2 separate regions of the Homo sapiens genome follow, and region 2 is linked to region 1. The links come from fine-mapping of genetic effects on gene expression. Tissue or cell type: pancreatic islets. Region 1 holds a variant in brackets; the other region holds the start of a gene. All regions are shown on one strand. Distances are from middle to middle.

Region 1 (8,178 bases):
AGGATGGGTAAGTCCATGGTTACATAGTTGGTGAACAGAAAAGCTGGGAGTCTAACCTGTCTCTCTCAGGCTTCAGAGGGCATGGCCTCCACACCAGCACTCTCCTGGTGGAGGGGTTGATGCTGCCACGAGAGTCTCTTCTCCCCTTGATTTTTTCTCTTCTCTTCTCTTCCTTTCTTCCTCCTATCCCCTCCACCCATTTCTTAATGATTCTTTAATTAACCAAGCAAGGTTAGAAAACTTTGATGAGCTTCCTCTAGCAGTGGGGCCGTTTATCTTTTTTTCTTTTTTTTTTTTTTTTGAGGCAGAGTTTCGCTCTTGCTGCCCAGGCTGGAGGGCAATGGCGCAATCTCAGGTCACTTCAACCTCCACCTCCCGGGTTCAAGTGATTCTCCTGCCTCAGCCTCCCGAGTAGCTGGGATTACAGGCATGCGTCGCCACGCCCCGCTGATTTTGTATTTTTAGTAGAGATGGGGTTTCACCATGTTGGCCAGGCTGGTCTCAAACTCCTGGCCTCAGGTGATCCATTCGCCTCGGCCTTCCAAAGTGCTGGGATTACAGGCGTGAGCCACCACTCCCGGCAGGGGCCATTTATCTTTTTTTTATTTTTTTGAGACAGAGTCTTGCCCTGTTGCCCAGACTGGAGTGCAGTGGCACAACCTTGGCTCACTGCAACCTCTGCCTCCTGGGTTCAAGCAATTCTCCTGCCGCAGCCTCCCAAGTAGCTGGGACTGCAGGCACCCACCACCATGCCCAGCTAATTTTTGTAGAGTGGGGCCATTTATAATGAGGCACCGCCCTGGAGCTGCAAGGGTTAACTCTGGCCTGGTGTTCAGAGCCGAGTGCCTTGGCCTTGGGAGGCAGCTATGAGTCCTCCTTTCTAATTAAAAATCGTCACCACTGGCTTTCATCCCATGCTAACGAGAAGAGTGTATGTGAGTTTGTGCGCAGTGTGTGCATGGGTCTTTATCTCTACTTCCTGTTTCATATTTAATTTGACAATTTTTTCCAGTTTGTGGATGTGGAACACGTGTAAGGTTGGGAGCATCGTCTGTTAGTAATCATTACCGCATTTTGGGGCTGGCTTGCTCCCACTGAGCCTGACCAAAGTCTTGTGGATTATGATCTTCCCGCCTCCTGAAATTGCTTTGTCCTGATCACCCTGGTTCCTGAAGGGACTGCCTTCAGGGCAGCAGTTTTGCCTTGGAAACTTTTCCAGAAGTGCTGGGATGATTCTTGTGTGTCAGGGAGAGGGGAGGTGGTACAGAAGCCCGATTTGGTAGATAAAGAACTGCAAGCTCTGGAAAACACAGCCTCCCACACCCTCCACAGTAGTTGTTTGGATTGGGGTGAACCGTAGCTCCAGCCTTTGGGTCATCCTTCATCCAGGCTGGATGAGGACATGGTTAGTCTGTGTTCACTTCTGCCTTTTCTCCAAAGTCTGGGGCCCAAACCCATCTGGACTGGACTCTCAGACCCAGCCTGCCCCCTGCTCAGCAGCATGGTCTTGCAGACCCCTGTTGTGGAGTATAGGGCCTGAGCATAGCCTCAGAGTGAGACCTCATGAGAACATGATGGGCACTGGGGGGTTGGAGAAGCTTCACCTTCTCAGCCTATCTGTGGGTATAAGGCAGTGGAAATCCTGTTGGCCGTAAGGGTCCTAGGGACCCTATCCTCATGTCACCAGTCTAAGTGGGGATTCAGAGCTGCTATCCAGGTGCCTGCTGCAAATGCCCTAGTCCTCCCACAGTGGTAACCGTTCTTACCCTACTAACTATTGAGCCTTAGAAACACTTCCTGGGTGTTTCTGAGCCACTGAGATTTTTTTTATCATCAGACTGATTGCTAAGGATTATCTCATGTATTGAATGGGAGCAAATCAGTTGTAGAATAAGAGCTGGAAGAAATTTACCAATCGGTCTGACCTGGGAAGTACTGTATCTGGGAAGTACTGTTCCAAGACTGAGAAGTCTTGGAACTGCTGAAATACAGTGCACAATTCTGTGTGGTGTGCATCTTTCCAGGGAGAGGGTCCATGGCCTTCATGAGCTTCCCAAATTGTCTGGGACTTCTCCAAAAAGTTAAGAATCACTGGTACAATCACCCCTTCACCCCACCGAAGAGTGCTATAGAATGGGTCCCAATGAACAGGGTTGGGGGAGGTTCAGAGGGGGTGAAGTACTCATAGACTTGTGTAAATGGTTCTAGGTCTCATACTTTCAGGTGATGAGAGTGGGTGGGGGAGGATTGAGAGAGATAAATCCTTTGTATTTCTTTGCAGTAAATCGTTTATATTTCTTTGCATCAACTTTTGGTGATGAGAGTGGGTGGGGGAGGACTGGGTAGAAATAAATAGTTTGTGTTTCTTTGCAGACAAGGATAATCCATTTTTATTATTTGCTCTTAGCTTTGTGGATGTACATTAAAGAGTCTGAAGTATAAAGAATTATAACCATCCCAGACTCCCTGACTTTGAATAATCCATTATAAAAGTACAGTTCCTTTTATCACAATATTCTTATCTTCTGTTTGTTTCTGAGCTAAAAAGAAATGCCCTAAGCTACACCCCAGCTGCAGAGTTTCTAGACCAAAGGCTACTGTTTTTTTCCTGCAGGAACCCTGGGGTGTTTGGGGGTTAAAAGGCCTGGGCCAGCCATGTGTGTTTAAAAAACAAGGCTGACTCCAAAGCTGGTGGCTCCAGCCTGACTCCATCCTGCTGTTAATGGAGGACAGAGGACCACTTACAGCTTCCTCTTCACCCCATAACAAATAACCCGGCGCTCCCCCAGGCCTTCCTGCACCCCCACCCGCACCGCCCTCCCGGTGGTGGCAGCAGCAAGCGCATGTTCTGAATCTGGTTTCTCGGCAGGCCCTGTGGTCAGCCCCGACAAGCTGTCTGAGACCCAGCTCCTTTCAGAGATAAGGCCCAAACTAACCACATTAGCAGGGTGCTTGGCCTGTTTGCCTTGCCTCTGTCTTCTGTTTGGACACTCCAGAACCTCTTGCGCAGGGTGGAGGCCTTTGCCCTACAGAGTGTGGTCCAGCTTTGAGCAGAGGCTCCTCTGGTGCCTCCTCTGGGAAGTCCTCCCTGACTGCTCTAGCCCAGGTGATGGCTCTTTGTTGCATTCATTTAGCAAATATTTGTCATGCACCTTTTAAAAATTCTTTATCACAGCTTGTACAAACACAGCTTAGCATATCAGCACCGTCACTCCCATTTACTCATTGTGCACCCAGCTTGGCACTAAGCATCTGACAGAAAATATTTTATTGACTCAGCACGAGAGTCCTGTGAAATTGGCATCATCAGCATCCCATTTTACAGACAGGAAAATTGAGGCATTTTTATGTTTTGTTCTCTTTCCTTTTCCTCCCTCCCTCCCTTCCTTCCTCCCTTTCTTCCTCCCTCCCTCTCTTCCTTCCTTTCTTTTTGACAGGGTCTTGCTCTCTTACCCAGGCTGGAGTGCAGCGGCATGATCACAGCTCACTGCAACCTCAACCTCCAGAGCTCAGGTGAACCTCCCACCTCAGTCTCCTGAGTAGCTGGGACTACATGTCTGGCCACTGCATCTGGCAGTATTTCTTTTTCTTAGCTTTTATTATCCTCTGTGGTTACATCATGTGTTTATCTGGTTACTTGTTTCATATCTGGCTCAAGTATTATATCATGAGCTCCATGGGGCAGGGATTTCCCTCCCAAGGTGGTGGGGACCTGGCATGAGCAGTACCTGTCACCTGGGAGGTACTTAGTAGATGCTTGCTCAATGGCTAAGACACAGGAGGCTGTCACTAGTCCACAGCTTCATACCTGGTCAGCAGTGAAGCTGGGATTTGAACCCAGGTCCCTGTGTGCAGTCATTGCATCCAGTAGTTTCTGTCCATGTGTGAGTTCTTGTCCCCGGCCAGACCATCAGCTCCTTCAGGCCGGCCCAGGTCTTACCTGAAAGGGCACCAGGGCTTTGAAGTGGGGTCCACCTGGATTAAAACACTGGTTCCGCCACTCAGTTGGGTGACACTTGGAACATTCCCTATCCATTCTAAACCCACATGGGCGCATTTCTAAAACTGGAAAAATAATGCCTAGTTGTTGTGAGAACTGGAAATAGTATGTGGGGTGCCTGGTTTTATCATAGGTGCTCAGTGAAAGGACAGCTAACATGAGACCGGACTCAACCTAACTTCTCAGGAAGCCAGGGGACTGGGTTAAAAAAGCTTGGAAATCTGTCCTCTTTTATTAGATTATAAAACTATAAAACATGAGTACATGCTCATTGGAAGAAGAAGAAGAAGGAGAAGAAGAAGGAAAGGAGGGAAGGAAGGAAGGAAGGAAGGAAAGAGAAGGGAAGGGAAGGAA[G/GGGAAGGAA]GGAAGGAAGGAAGGAAGAAAGGAAGGAAAGAAGGCCGGCCACAGTGGCTCAAGCCTGTAATCCCAGCACTTTGGGAGGCCGAGGTGAGCGGATCACAAGGTCAGGAGTTCGAGACCAGCCTGGCCAACATGGTGAAACCTTGTCTCTACTAAAAATACAAAAATTAGCTGGGCTTGGTGGCGGATGCCTATAGTTCCAGCTACTCGGGAGGCTGAGGCAGGAGAATCACTTGAATCCGGGAGGCAGAGGTTGCAGTGAGCCGAGACTGCACCACTACACTCCAGCCTGGGCAACAGAGCAAGACTCCGTCAAAAAAAAGGAAGGAAGGAAGGAGAAGAAGAAGGAGGAGGAAGAGGAAGAAGAAGAGGAGGAGGAGGAAGAAGCAGCAGAAGAAATTAAACTGTATAGAAATCAAAAGTGAAAGTTTGTATACGCTTTTTTGCCCCAAATCCATTTTTTCCCCCAATAAGTAAATACTGTTGATGGTTTGGTGTATATCTTTTTGATAGTTTTAAATGTGTTTACCCAAATCACATATTTTTTACATAGCAAAATCATACTAGGCATATGGTTTTAAAAATTGCTTTTTTTGGCCGGGTGCGGTGGCTCACACCTGTAAAGCACTTTGGGAGCCAAGGAGGGCAGATCATGAGATCAAGAGATTGAGACCATCCTGGCCAACATGGTGAAACCCCATCGATACTAAAAAATACAAAAATTAGCTAGGTGTGGTGGCGTGTGCCTGTAGTCCCAGCTACTAGAGGCTGAGGCGGGAGAATCGCTTGAACCCGGGAGGCAGAGGTTGCAGTGAGCGAGATTGCGCCACTGCGCTCCAGCCTGGTGACAGAGCGAGACTCCGTCTCAAAAAACAAACAAAAAATTGTTTTTTTCATTAACCTATCTTGGGGGCCTTCCTCTGTCACTTCATTCAGATTCACAGCAATCTTCTTAATGGCTGTGCAGCATTTCTGGTATGGCTGGACTATAATTTATGCAACCATTCTCCTACTGATGGCTTTTTGCTTCCAATTTTTTCTCTATTTCATACAAGATGACAATGAATATTGTTTCTGTTATCTATTCCTAAGTAACAAATCCCTCGAAATTAAATGGCTTAAAACAATAATTCATTATTCCCCATGTTTCTGTAGGTGGACTAAGTGGTGGCTCTGCCTCCTGTGGTGCTGGACAGGGAGGGTCCGAACGTTCTCACTGGTGGGGCTGGTAGTTGGTGCTGGCTGGTGCTGGGCTGGGGCTATCCCCAGGAGCGCCTTTGGCTTCCCTCTTACTGGTCTCTCCATGTGGCTTGAGTTTCTCGCAGCATGGGTCCGGGTTCCAGAATGTCACTGCTGCCATACTCTATTGATCAAAGTCAGTCACAAGGCAAGCCCAGATTCAAAGGGGGTGGGAGCCAAGCTCTGCCTCTTGATGTGGGGTGCAGCATGTGTGCATGTGCGGGGAGAGGAAGACCTGCAGGGGGCCGTGTACTAATAATACGCACTCTCCTCAACATGATACAAGAGCACTTATTTCTCCATACCCTCACCAGGGTTGGATGTTATCCATTGTTTTCATCATAGTCCATCTCGTGGATGTAAAATTATAACTCGTTTTTAGTTTTAGAGGTGCTGAGCATCTTTTTATGTGTTTCACTTTAAAAAAATTTTTTTGAGACAGGGTCTCGTTCTGTCACCCAGGCTGGAGTGCAGTGGCACCATCATAGCTCATTGTAGCCTCGAACTCCTGGACTCAAGTGATCTTTCTGCTTTAGCTTCCTGAGTAACTGAGACCACAGGTGTGCACCCCCTCCACACACACACACACACACACACACACACACACACAATTTTAAGAGATGGGATCGTGCTATGTTGGCCAGTATGTTCTGAGAGTTCAATTTGGGAATAAGTCCATGAATTTCCTATACCATCAAAGAAACAGAATGGTAGTTTGGAGCTCAGAGGGGAGGAAATATCCCATATGAGGACTCTGATTCAGGGTTTCATCAGCTAGCTCTGCTGCCTGCGAACTGACTTTGAGAGAGAGTTTCAAAGTGTTGACAAGCAGATTATTAACCCTGTGTTATCTTCAGGCTCATTCCTTACTTATAAGGGCCTGTGCTTTCAGAGGACTCTGTGATTCCCAGTAAGAGAATGTCCTGCTCTTCAGTGAAATTGTGAGGCAGCTCTGAACTCTAAGCCCTGGGGCTGGGCAAAAAATGCCCTTTTAGTGGGAGGGAGTGGGCTACCAGTAGTAAGATGGCGGGTAAACCTCCGTTAAATGGCCTACTATTAACGTACATTTCAGGCTTTTTCCCTCTGCTATTCCCACGTTCCCAAGAGAAGAAAGGTAACAGAATATAGGCCATGGTAACTTTGATGGAATAGTCCAGGGTTTAATTCAAAGATGCTCACTGGTCAAAGTGGGTCCCACTGCTTTTCCAGCTTTTGATTCAAGCTTCAGTCTCCGAGAGTTTGCACACTAGTATGTCACACAGGACCATTTTGGTTATAAGACCCAGAAAAGCCCATGCCCACTCTGGCTTAATAACGAAGCAGTTTGGCTGGGCGCAGTGGCTCACGCCTGTAATCCCAGCACTTTGGGAGGCTGAGGTGGGTGGATCACAAGGTCAGGAGTTCGAGACCTGCCTTGCCAACATAGTGAAAACCCTGTCTCTACTAAAAATAGAAAAAATTAGCCAGACATGGTGGTGGGCGCCTGTAATCCCAGCTACTCGGGAGGCTGAGGCAGGAGAATGGATTGATCCCGGGAGGCAGAGGTTGCAGTAGGCCGAGACTGCACCACTGCACTCCAGCCTGGGCAACAGTGTGAGACTCTGTCTCAAAAAAAAACAAAAGAGAAAAGAAAAAAAGAAAAAAGAAGCAATTTATTGGATCATATACAAGGATGCCTGGGGGTGGGGATGAGAATGGAAGGGATTCAGGGCCCAAAGAGGACACACATCAACCCTGGACTCTCTCTTCCCTCTCTTCTCGCCGTAGACTCCTTGTGAAGACAAGATGGGGTGGCACCAGCAGCCCCTCAGCCTCAGGATCGAAGTCTAGCCAGAGAGAGTGCCCGTCTCTGGCTCTGCATTCCCAGGAAAGGCCTCTGTGGCCCATTGGCTCCCCTGGGGCCATTTTTCCTTTCCTGATCTAAGCCCCGTGGCCCAGGGAATCTGGAACAGTGATTGGCTTAGGCTAGGACGTGTGTTCCTCCCCATGGCTGTGTTTTGGAGCCTCACCTTGAGGGTGGCAGGGTGGATCCCAAACCAACCCTGGGAGCTGTTCCTGAAGGCAGAGGAAAGGATACTGGGCATGTCAGAGACAAAAGTGACTGTCCCTGGTTCCTCCCCAGAGCCTGTCACACAGTCATTCATTTAGAATGTAAAATCTACAGTGGAAGGAATTTGGGCCTCCTACCTGTCCTCAGTTAAAGCTAATTCATTTCCTCCCAGGACTAGTGTTAGCAAACAAAAAATCGTGGGTCGTCCAAGAACAATTACAAATGATCCAAAACCCTCGCTTCAGTCACGGGTTGTGGTCTTAGAGCTCAGCCTTCATGGAGGAGGTGATGAAAAAGCTGGATTCTAACCCTTCTTTGTCCCTCTCGCCCTTAAGGGGAGGTGTCTGAGCAGTGAACTGGCAACAAAGGGAGGAGTGTAGGAGCTGATGGATTGAGCCCTTTCTTTCAAAATGTAATTTACAGGATTATTATTTGTAAAGTTGATTATTGCAAATTATCCATGGGGGTCTAGGGTAAGGGTATTTATTGTCTTCAACCACAAGCCTACATAGTTTGGGGAAGCGAAACGTACTTCTTT
Region 2 (8,178 bases), 80 kb before region 1:
CTGTCTGTTCAGCCTTGGAGTGATACCACCCTTGTTATTGATCCTTGTAGCCAAGGTTAATAGTTTCAAAACAACTTATGTAACCTTGCTCATTTTGCCTTTAAAACCTTTGCCTTCCTTTCCCTCTCTGGGTACATCCATGGCCCTTCATGAGGTGCATACATATCCCAGATTGCAATCTTGAGGATTCACAAATAAACTCACTGTCTTTGGAGAATCTCTCTGTTGTTATTTCAGGTTGACAACTTTCTCTCTTCCCATGACAGCAAAGCCCTTTTATTTCTTTCTGTTTTTTTTTTTTAGATGAAGTTTCACTCTTGTTGCCCAGGCTGGAGTGCAATGGCGCGATCTCGGCTCACTGCAACCTCCGCCTCTCAGGTTCAAGTGATTCTCCTGCCTTAGCCTCCCAAGTAGCTGGGATTACAGGCATGTACCACCACGCCCGGCTAAGTTTTTTGTATTTTTAGTAGAGATGGGGTTTCTCCATGATGGTCAGGCTGGTCTCCAACTCCCAACCTCAGGTGATCCTCCCGCCTCGGCCTCCCAAAGTGCTGGGATTACAGGCGTGAGCCACCACACCTGGCCAACAAAGCCCTTTTCTCGTTCAAAACCCTTTCTTCCCAATCCTTACCTGATTATCCCAGCTGGCCACATAATTCTCTTCACTATCTCTCAGCATTAGTTAATATAGCTCAACACAGTTGTAAATAACTTGTAAGTTTTATATTTTAAAAATGTCTCAAATAAGTGTTTACTATCATCTCTATTTCATCATGAAGACTCCAAAGGTTAGAACTTTCTATCTCCTGTCTATTTATGTCCCGTATTTCTCTCCACACCCAAAGCAGTGCATACATTTTGGAGCCAGACAAATCCCAGTTTGCGTTTCGACTCCACCGCTCACAAAGCTGAGTAGGTTATGTAAATTTCCTGAGTCTCTTCAAGAATCTGCAGAATGGGTTTGTTATGAAGATTAAGCAGATGATGTACCATCAGGTCCAAGATTCTGGAAGTGCTCCATAACAGTAGTAATTATCAGTGGATAATTTCTTTATTTGTAATATGAAGATATTACCTTTTGCTCTTAATGAACCTTGTGGTAATGTAGTGAGAATTAAAAGAAGTAGTAAGTCATAGAAATAAAACTTCATGGTTTAATTGGAGCCCTGTGAAGACTAGCTGGAGAAGTTCAAGGCCTCAAATGAGATATTAGACTAATGAGGCTTTTGTCTAAATTTAACACATTTAACAAACCCTTCTTGGTTACTTACTGAGCTCTGCACTACCTAGGTCAAGCCTCATGTGGATATGAAAGACAGAAGGTCACATTTATCCTAGAGATTTGTATCTATATTGCAGGGGGAAAGGGATACGGACATGAGTTATGCTTATACTTGTCCATGTTTCTTTTCTCTCTCAGGAGGGATGATTCAGAGTCAGCAATTCACATATGCAGTACTGCACATGGAAAGTATTACTGTTATTCTGTGGGGAAATAAGTTTCTAAGTGCAGCAATCTGAAATTAATAACTTTCTCTGTGGAAACTCTCTTGACAACATCTCGAGATGAAGCCAAAGAGCACAATTTTTATGGCTTTGGATTATCTTCTCTGTCTGCTTGGCTTGCACCAGGCATGGATCTGTGAGCCAGAAATTCAGTTTTCCCCTTCGTTGTACAATTTGCCTGCCAGCTGGAGGCCTAATATAGCAGTGACTCAATTTCTCAATTCTCCAATTTATCCACCCATCAAATCAAGGCAAATAATCTCAATTTACTTATTAGAGGCTTTGGGGAACTCAAGAAAAAAAAGACCAAAATCTTTACCGTGACTACAAAACATTTTGGTTGAGGACATAGGAAAAGGAGATTAGAAGTTGGAGATCAATTTTCTTTTACTTTCAATGCAAAATATTTCTATGATAAAGCCTGTTATTTATATTATGATAAATATTTGTGTCCACATGCAGGGAGTATATAGATATTGAGGGAGAAAGTAATTTAGGAAAGAAATAGAAGGGTAGCAACATCTTTTCCACAAAAGCCACAGCACTGCAGACATGCATAAAGATTGCAGTTGTTGCTCCAATAGCCTTATGTGGTAGGCCGACAAATTCTTTTTTCTTTTTCTTTTTTTTTTTCAGAGATTGTGTCTCACTATGTTGCCCAGGTTGGTCTCGAACTCCTGGCTCCTGGGCTCACGTGATCCTCGAGTCTCAGGCTCTCAAAGTGCTGAGATTACAGATGTGAGCCACTGTGCCCAGTGGACATTCTTTTTTATTCTTTCTTACACGTAAATGTAGACAATCTGGACAAAGAAGTCTGGATTTCTACTTTCCACTGCTGACATTTTAAAAAATTTCAAATTAGATTTTTGCACCCTTTATACAAGACTACATGGCAGGACATTATGTTTGATTCACTGTACCTGATTACATTTAAATGTTGTTTTTCTGGATTATAAACAACAACTGAGGGACAGAGTAAGGAGGCTCTAAATAGACTTGAGAGCTTGGAATGTTGCTACATTTGTTCGCTCTCCCAGCATGTTAATATGTGAGACTAATACTTGGAAATAGCGACAGATATAGAGGAGTTTGGATGCTGAGAGAGAACTCAAAGTGAAGATGGTAAACATCTAGAGTTTTTATTGATTACAATTTTCTCATATATACAGAAACCTCAGGGTGTGTTCTAAACACAGTTCTCTTTTAAAATACATAATTAACTAAACTTCAAAATTAGAAGCTAAGACAATAATCATATTAATATAACCTCTACACTGCCAACTTGGAAAGGCAATGAAGAAGAAATGGGAATTGCAACAAGCTTCAGAGATGGAAGATTTTGTTTTTCTCTGTAGGACATGTGGGTAGAAGCAATTGCAGATGGCTGGGTGTGAAAGAAACAGACCTTGCAAGCCTGCTATATAGCTATACTGTGCTACATGGCATTGGGAGGTAATAAGATTTAAAAGACAAATACTCTTGTCTTCACAAAGCTTATAATTTAGTTGTGCAATACTGGGTAAGAAAGCTGGCTTAATGGAGTTGTATTCCAGCTTCACCCCTTAGTAGCTCTGTGTCATTGGGTGAGATATTTAATTTCTTTGGGCATAACTTCCTCATCTGTGAAACACTGATAATTGTATCTCCTATATGGCAGCTATGCCAGCCTCCTTTCTGTTCTTCCACAAGACAATCTCTCTCTGGACCGCCCTTTGCACCTGTTCCTGTGGTCGGGAAAGCCTTTAGCATGGCCAAACCCTTCAAGTTTTGACTTCATGTCACCGAGTCAGGGAGCTTTTTTGGAAAATATTGTTTCCGATTCCGCAGATGAGGCTGTTAAAATACTAAAGGATGGCATAAACATGAGGATGCTATTATAATCATCCACCCTAAGTAGGATTTGAGATCCAAGCAGTTCTCAAGGATTTAGGGTTAGCAAACTTTTTCTGTAAAATGTCAGATAGCAAGTATTATAGGGTTTGCAGGCCATACCAAACAAATGGGTGCTGCTGTGTTCCAATAAAACTTTATTTATGGACACTGAAACTTGAATTTCATGTACTTTTCACAGTCATGGTGGCAGACCGGATTTGGCCCCCTCCCTGTCGCTGGCTGACCCCTGGTTTATGAGTACGGCAGATAAAAGAAGGGAGTGAATAAGAACCACGATTCTGCTGCCAGACACGAGGGATCAGGTCGCTGCTGTGAAGATTGTCAACCTCTCTGGTTGCCAACGACCTCGAGAATGGGGTTGTGGTCCCTGCGTCAGGGCGGTTGTGCTGAAGGCTGGATGAGGGCACGTAGGTGAAGCTCAGTGCTTGGCACGAGGTGCTCATCAGCAGCATCGCCCTTGCTTTGGGCTGGCCTGTTAGTAATTCGTTTTTAGTGGAATCGAATACAACACTTGAGCCTCGGAGGCTCAGGTCGTCGGAGCAACTACACCAGGGCCGGTGCACCTCGGGGCGGCGGCGCAGGACTAGGCTAGGCCGGGCCGGGCCGGGCAGGGCGGCGCGAGTCGGGGGTGGGGCGGCGGCGCAGCGCCGTCGTCGTAGTCCCCGCCTCTTCCCCAGGGGCCGCGTCGGAGCCTCGGCGGCGGCGGCGGTGCTTACAGCCTGAGAAGAGCGTCTCGCCCGGGAGCGGCGGCGGCCATCGAGACCCACCCAAGGCGCGTCCCCCTCGGCCTCCCAGCGCTCCCAAGCCGCAGCGGCCGCGCCCCTTCAGCTAGCTCGCTCGCTCGCTCTGCTTCCCTGCTGCCGGCTGCGCCATGGCGTTGGCGTTGGCGGCGCTGGCGGCGGTCGAGCCGGCCTGCGGCAGCCGGTACCAGCAGGTAAGCGGCGCCCGACTCCAGCCCCGAACTCCGGTCCCTGGCTCTGCCCTGCCCGCTGGCCGCCTCAGGCCTCTCTGGCCGGCCCGCGGCCAACTCGACGCCGGGGCTTGGCAGGCCGCGCTGGGCCTGGAGGGGCGGGTCGGGCCCCGGGCTCGGATTCGAGGCTGCCACGGGCCCGGCCTGCCCGTCTGCGACCCCAGGTGGGACTCCGGCGGTGGAAAGTCCTCCTCCCGGCCTCGTTTCCCGCATTTCCCAGGGCGGGCGGGTCCCTGAGTCAGAACCCGCGACCCACAGGCGGCATCGATCTGAGGCATTCGTTTTTCATTTTTCCACCTTTGGTTTGATGTCATTGGAAAAGAAAGAAAGAAAAAAGCATGAAACGGAAACTGGGTGGAGAGAAAAGATTAAAATCTCTGCTGCTGCCGATAGCTCCCCACAGCAAGATGCTATTGCTCAGGGTTTCAGAGCCTAGTTTGTCGAAACCCATCCCCCTCGCCTCCGTTTTAAGACAAAAGTAAAAAATGAAGCAAGAGACAAGCCCGCAGTTTGCAGTAGATTTGGAAGAGGCGATGTTTGGCTGTGGTGATGCCCCAAAAGGGAGAGCTACGATGAAGTCTGCAGGGCGTGTGCCGGGTGTATTTTAAATGCTTGGAAGTGACGTTTTAAGAGATTTGATGGCATAGCTGGGGAGGAAATGTATAGGAAATGATTGGATCATTTTCTCGGGTTTGATTTAATACATTGAGGCCCCAGGGAAAAGAGCTGCTTGTTTCACTCCGCGTCTGTAGCTAAGTTCCCCCAGGAAATTTAGAGACCTTCTGCAGGGTTTTTGGAAGTGTTAATCTAACATACAGTAATGGTGGGAATTGAGCCAGGTGGTAAACTGATGTTGATTGGAACCGCAAATAACGGCTTGTGTTTGTCATGTTTCAGATGCTTTCGGTGCATACAGATGTCAATCCTCCTTTTATCAAATAAAATGTCCTATCTTAGACGATCTACAATTTTATATTTTAGAAGTAAGGAAAGCCAGCCAGTACGATGAAAACGTAGATTAACCCTGGTGCGGCCGGCCGGTTACTGGTTTGTTTTGCTATCATCAGCCATGTGTTGCAATCCGTCCCCACTCAGGCTTGGACTCCCAAAATGACTAGTTAAGAATTTCACTTCTTGGTTTTATAAACACGGCCCAAATTGTGGCAATGCAGTTAATCCTTAGATCTCTTCAGAGCACATGGATCTAGCACATGCTTTTTTTCTATGACCTTGGGCAGCCTGCGGGTTCCTTACTGCTTTAATAAAATGGGAATAACAGATGCCACTTAACTGTCACCACAGTGTTTGCAAATCACCCCTACTGTATACTGTCATCTGATTTCATCCTTTTCATCCTGACTTGGATAAGGCTAACGAGCAAAAGAGCTGTGGTTTTTCTTTGTACTGCCATCTTCTTGAGCTATTAGGTAATGCTGACATACTGCTAGAATATAAAAAATTTGCTGGAGTATCAAAATCATGTATTCCTTAGTGTGGCATTTAATATTTTTTAATTATGCAGAATTGAAGTATAAAAAAAAGAGAAAAAAATCTTCCTAGAAAAATTGTAAAAGATGAAAGCCCAAAAAACTGCAAAACCCTCCCTAAACAAAAACCAAATAGATAACCAAAGGTAATATTTTAATGTGCATTCTTGTGGGTTTATAGCTATGTAAATATACATAGTTATAGATCAGTATATGTGTGTACAGATAAGGAATGCAGGAAAGCTAATATTGATTTTTTTATGCAACAATCACAGTATTAAGTAATTTACATCCATTTTTTTTTTCTTTTAATTCATACCAAACCCTTATGAACCAGGGTTTGTTCTCATTGTCAAAGACTCAAAGTGGCTCAGTAACTTGCCTCAAGGTCACAGGCTGCTAAGTAGTGATTATAAGGATATACACACACTCACCTACTTAAAACACAGGCTCACAGTCCAGATATAGGTGTATGCATTAGCAGATATATACACATGCATATGTATTCTCTTATGTACCCATATATACGTATACAGACATATCTTTGTACATTTGTGTGCAGTTTTATGAGCCCCGATCATACTTGCACATACTTTTGCACGTGTCCATGTGTATCTTGTTCTCAGACATGTGCATTCATACATTTGCACATGTGTATCATGCACATGTATCTACAAAGGCATGCTAGATAAATAATGAAATAGGTTCATAATTCTATTTTGTAATGTTCTTCACACAATGTTATTAATGTCTTCTATATAAAATATTTTTAATGTCTGCATGGCATGTAATTGTATGGCTGAATCATAATTTAACTAATTGCTTATCTTTGGTCACTAAGAATGTTTACAGTTTTTTTCATTGAAATTTATTTCACATACGTCTTCAACCGTTTCCTTAGCATAAATTACTAGCCATGGAAATGCCTGGTCAGCGAATATGCATTTTTAAAAGGCTTTTGAATTATAGAATGATGGTGAATTGTCCAGGCAACTTGATAGGAGCATGATACTCTTTGGTTGTCACACAGGGCTGTTCTGACTTCTATTTGATCTGGTTAATCAAATTGAGCTAGTTTTCTCACCAAGTAAATGTAATGGAAAACTGTATGATTCATTCATAAATGCAAACACAGTTTTGTCTTTATGGTCTTTTTATTGGTAGTGTAATATGTGGACAACTTGAATTTAGCATAGTGACAGACTATGCAGAAAGGGTAGGCTCAACCAGGTGTGGTGGCTCACACCTGTAATCACAGCACTTTGGGAGGCCGAGGTGGGCGGATCACTTGAGGTCAGGAGTTCGAGACCAGCCTGGCCAACATGGCAAAACCTTGCCTCTACTAAAAATACAAAAATTAGCCAGGTGTGGTGGCACTCACCTGTAATCCCAGCTACTTGGGAGGCTGAGGCAGGAGAATTGCTTGAACCTGGGAGGCAGAAGTTGCAGTGAGCCAAGATTGTGCCACTGAACCCCAGCCTGGGTGACAGAGTGGGACTGTCTCAAAAAAAACCAAAACAAAACAAAACAAAAAATGGCCAGGCAAGGTGGCTCATGCCTGTAATCCCAGCACTTTGGGAGGCCAAGGCAGGCAGATCACAAAGATCACGAGGTCAAGAGATTGAGACCATCCTGGCCAACATGTGAAACCCCATCTCTATTAAAAATACAAAAATTAGCTGGGCGTGGTGGCGTGCACCTGTAGTCCCAGCTACTCAGGAGGCTGAGGCAGGAGAATCGCTTGAACCTGGGAGGCAGATGTTTCAGTGAACTGAGATCGTGCCACTGCACTCCTGCCTGGCGACAGAGCAAGACTCTGTTTAAAAAAAAAAGCACGGTGTGGTGGTGCACATCTGTAACTCCAGCTACTTGGGAGGCTGAGGCAGGAAAATCACTTGAACCCAGGAGGCAGAGTTTGCAGTAGGCTGGGATCGCGCCACTGTACTCCAGGTTGGGTGAGCAAGACTGTCTTAAAAAAAAAAAAAAAAAAAGGCACCGAGGTGGGCGGATCACAAGGTCAGGAGATCGAGACCATCCTGGCTAACATGGTGAAACCCCATCTCTACTAAAAATACAAAAAATTAGTTGGGCGTGGTGGCACGTGCCTGTAGTAGTCCCAGCTACTCGGGAGGCTGAGGCAGGAGAAACCCGGGAGGTGAAGATTGCAGTGAGCCGAGATCGCGCCACTGCACTCCAGGCTGGGCGACGAAGTGAGACTCTGTCCAAAAAAAAAAAAAAGAGGCTAGGCTTATAGGTTCCCCTGGCATTATTTTATTTTTTTTTTCATTTTTGCCTTTTGAAACTGAGACTGTCTCAGACAGT

The links. PIP is the estimated chance that this variant, and not a neighbour inherited with it, causes the effect.
Region 2: it holds the start of NDFIP1, and the variant in region 1 is fine-mapped to the expression of NDFIP1 in pancreatic islets (PISA, PIP 0.94).

Annotation. Positions count from the first base shown.
Region 1 is chr5:142,184,218-142,192,395 of GRCh38, forward strand. All of the region lies in intron 1 of LOC107986455 (a long non-coding RNA gene), which reads right to left. Among named protein-coding and RNA genes, the nearest start is that of NDFIP1, 80 kb to the left of the region's middle. RefSeq lists enhancers at 87-983, 984-1,879, 2,853-3,382. The variant G/GGGAAGGAA (reference allele first, on the strand shown) is at 4,355.
Region 2 is chr5:142,104,705-142,112,882 of GRCh38, forward strand. NDFIP1 (Nedd4 family interacting protein 1) reads left to right here and starts at 4,075. Exons shown (of 8, transcript NM_030571.4): 1 at 4,075-4,333. The coding sequence starts at 4,271. RefSeq lists an enhancer at 3,826-4,327 and silencers at 3,905-4,174, 4,235-4,364, 4,435-4,504.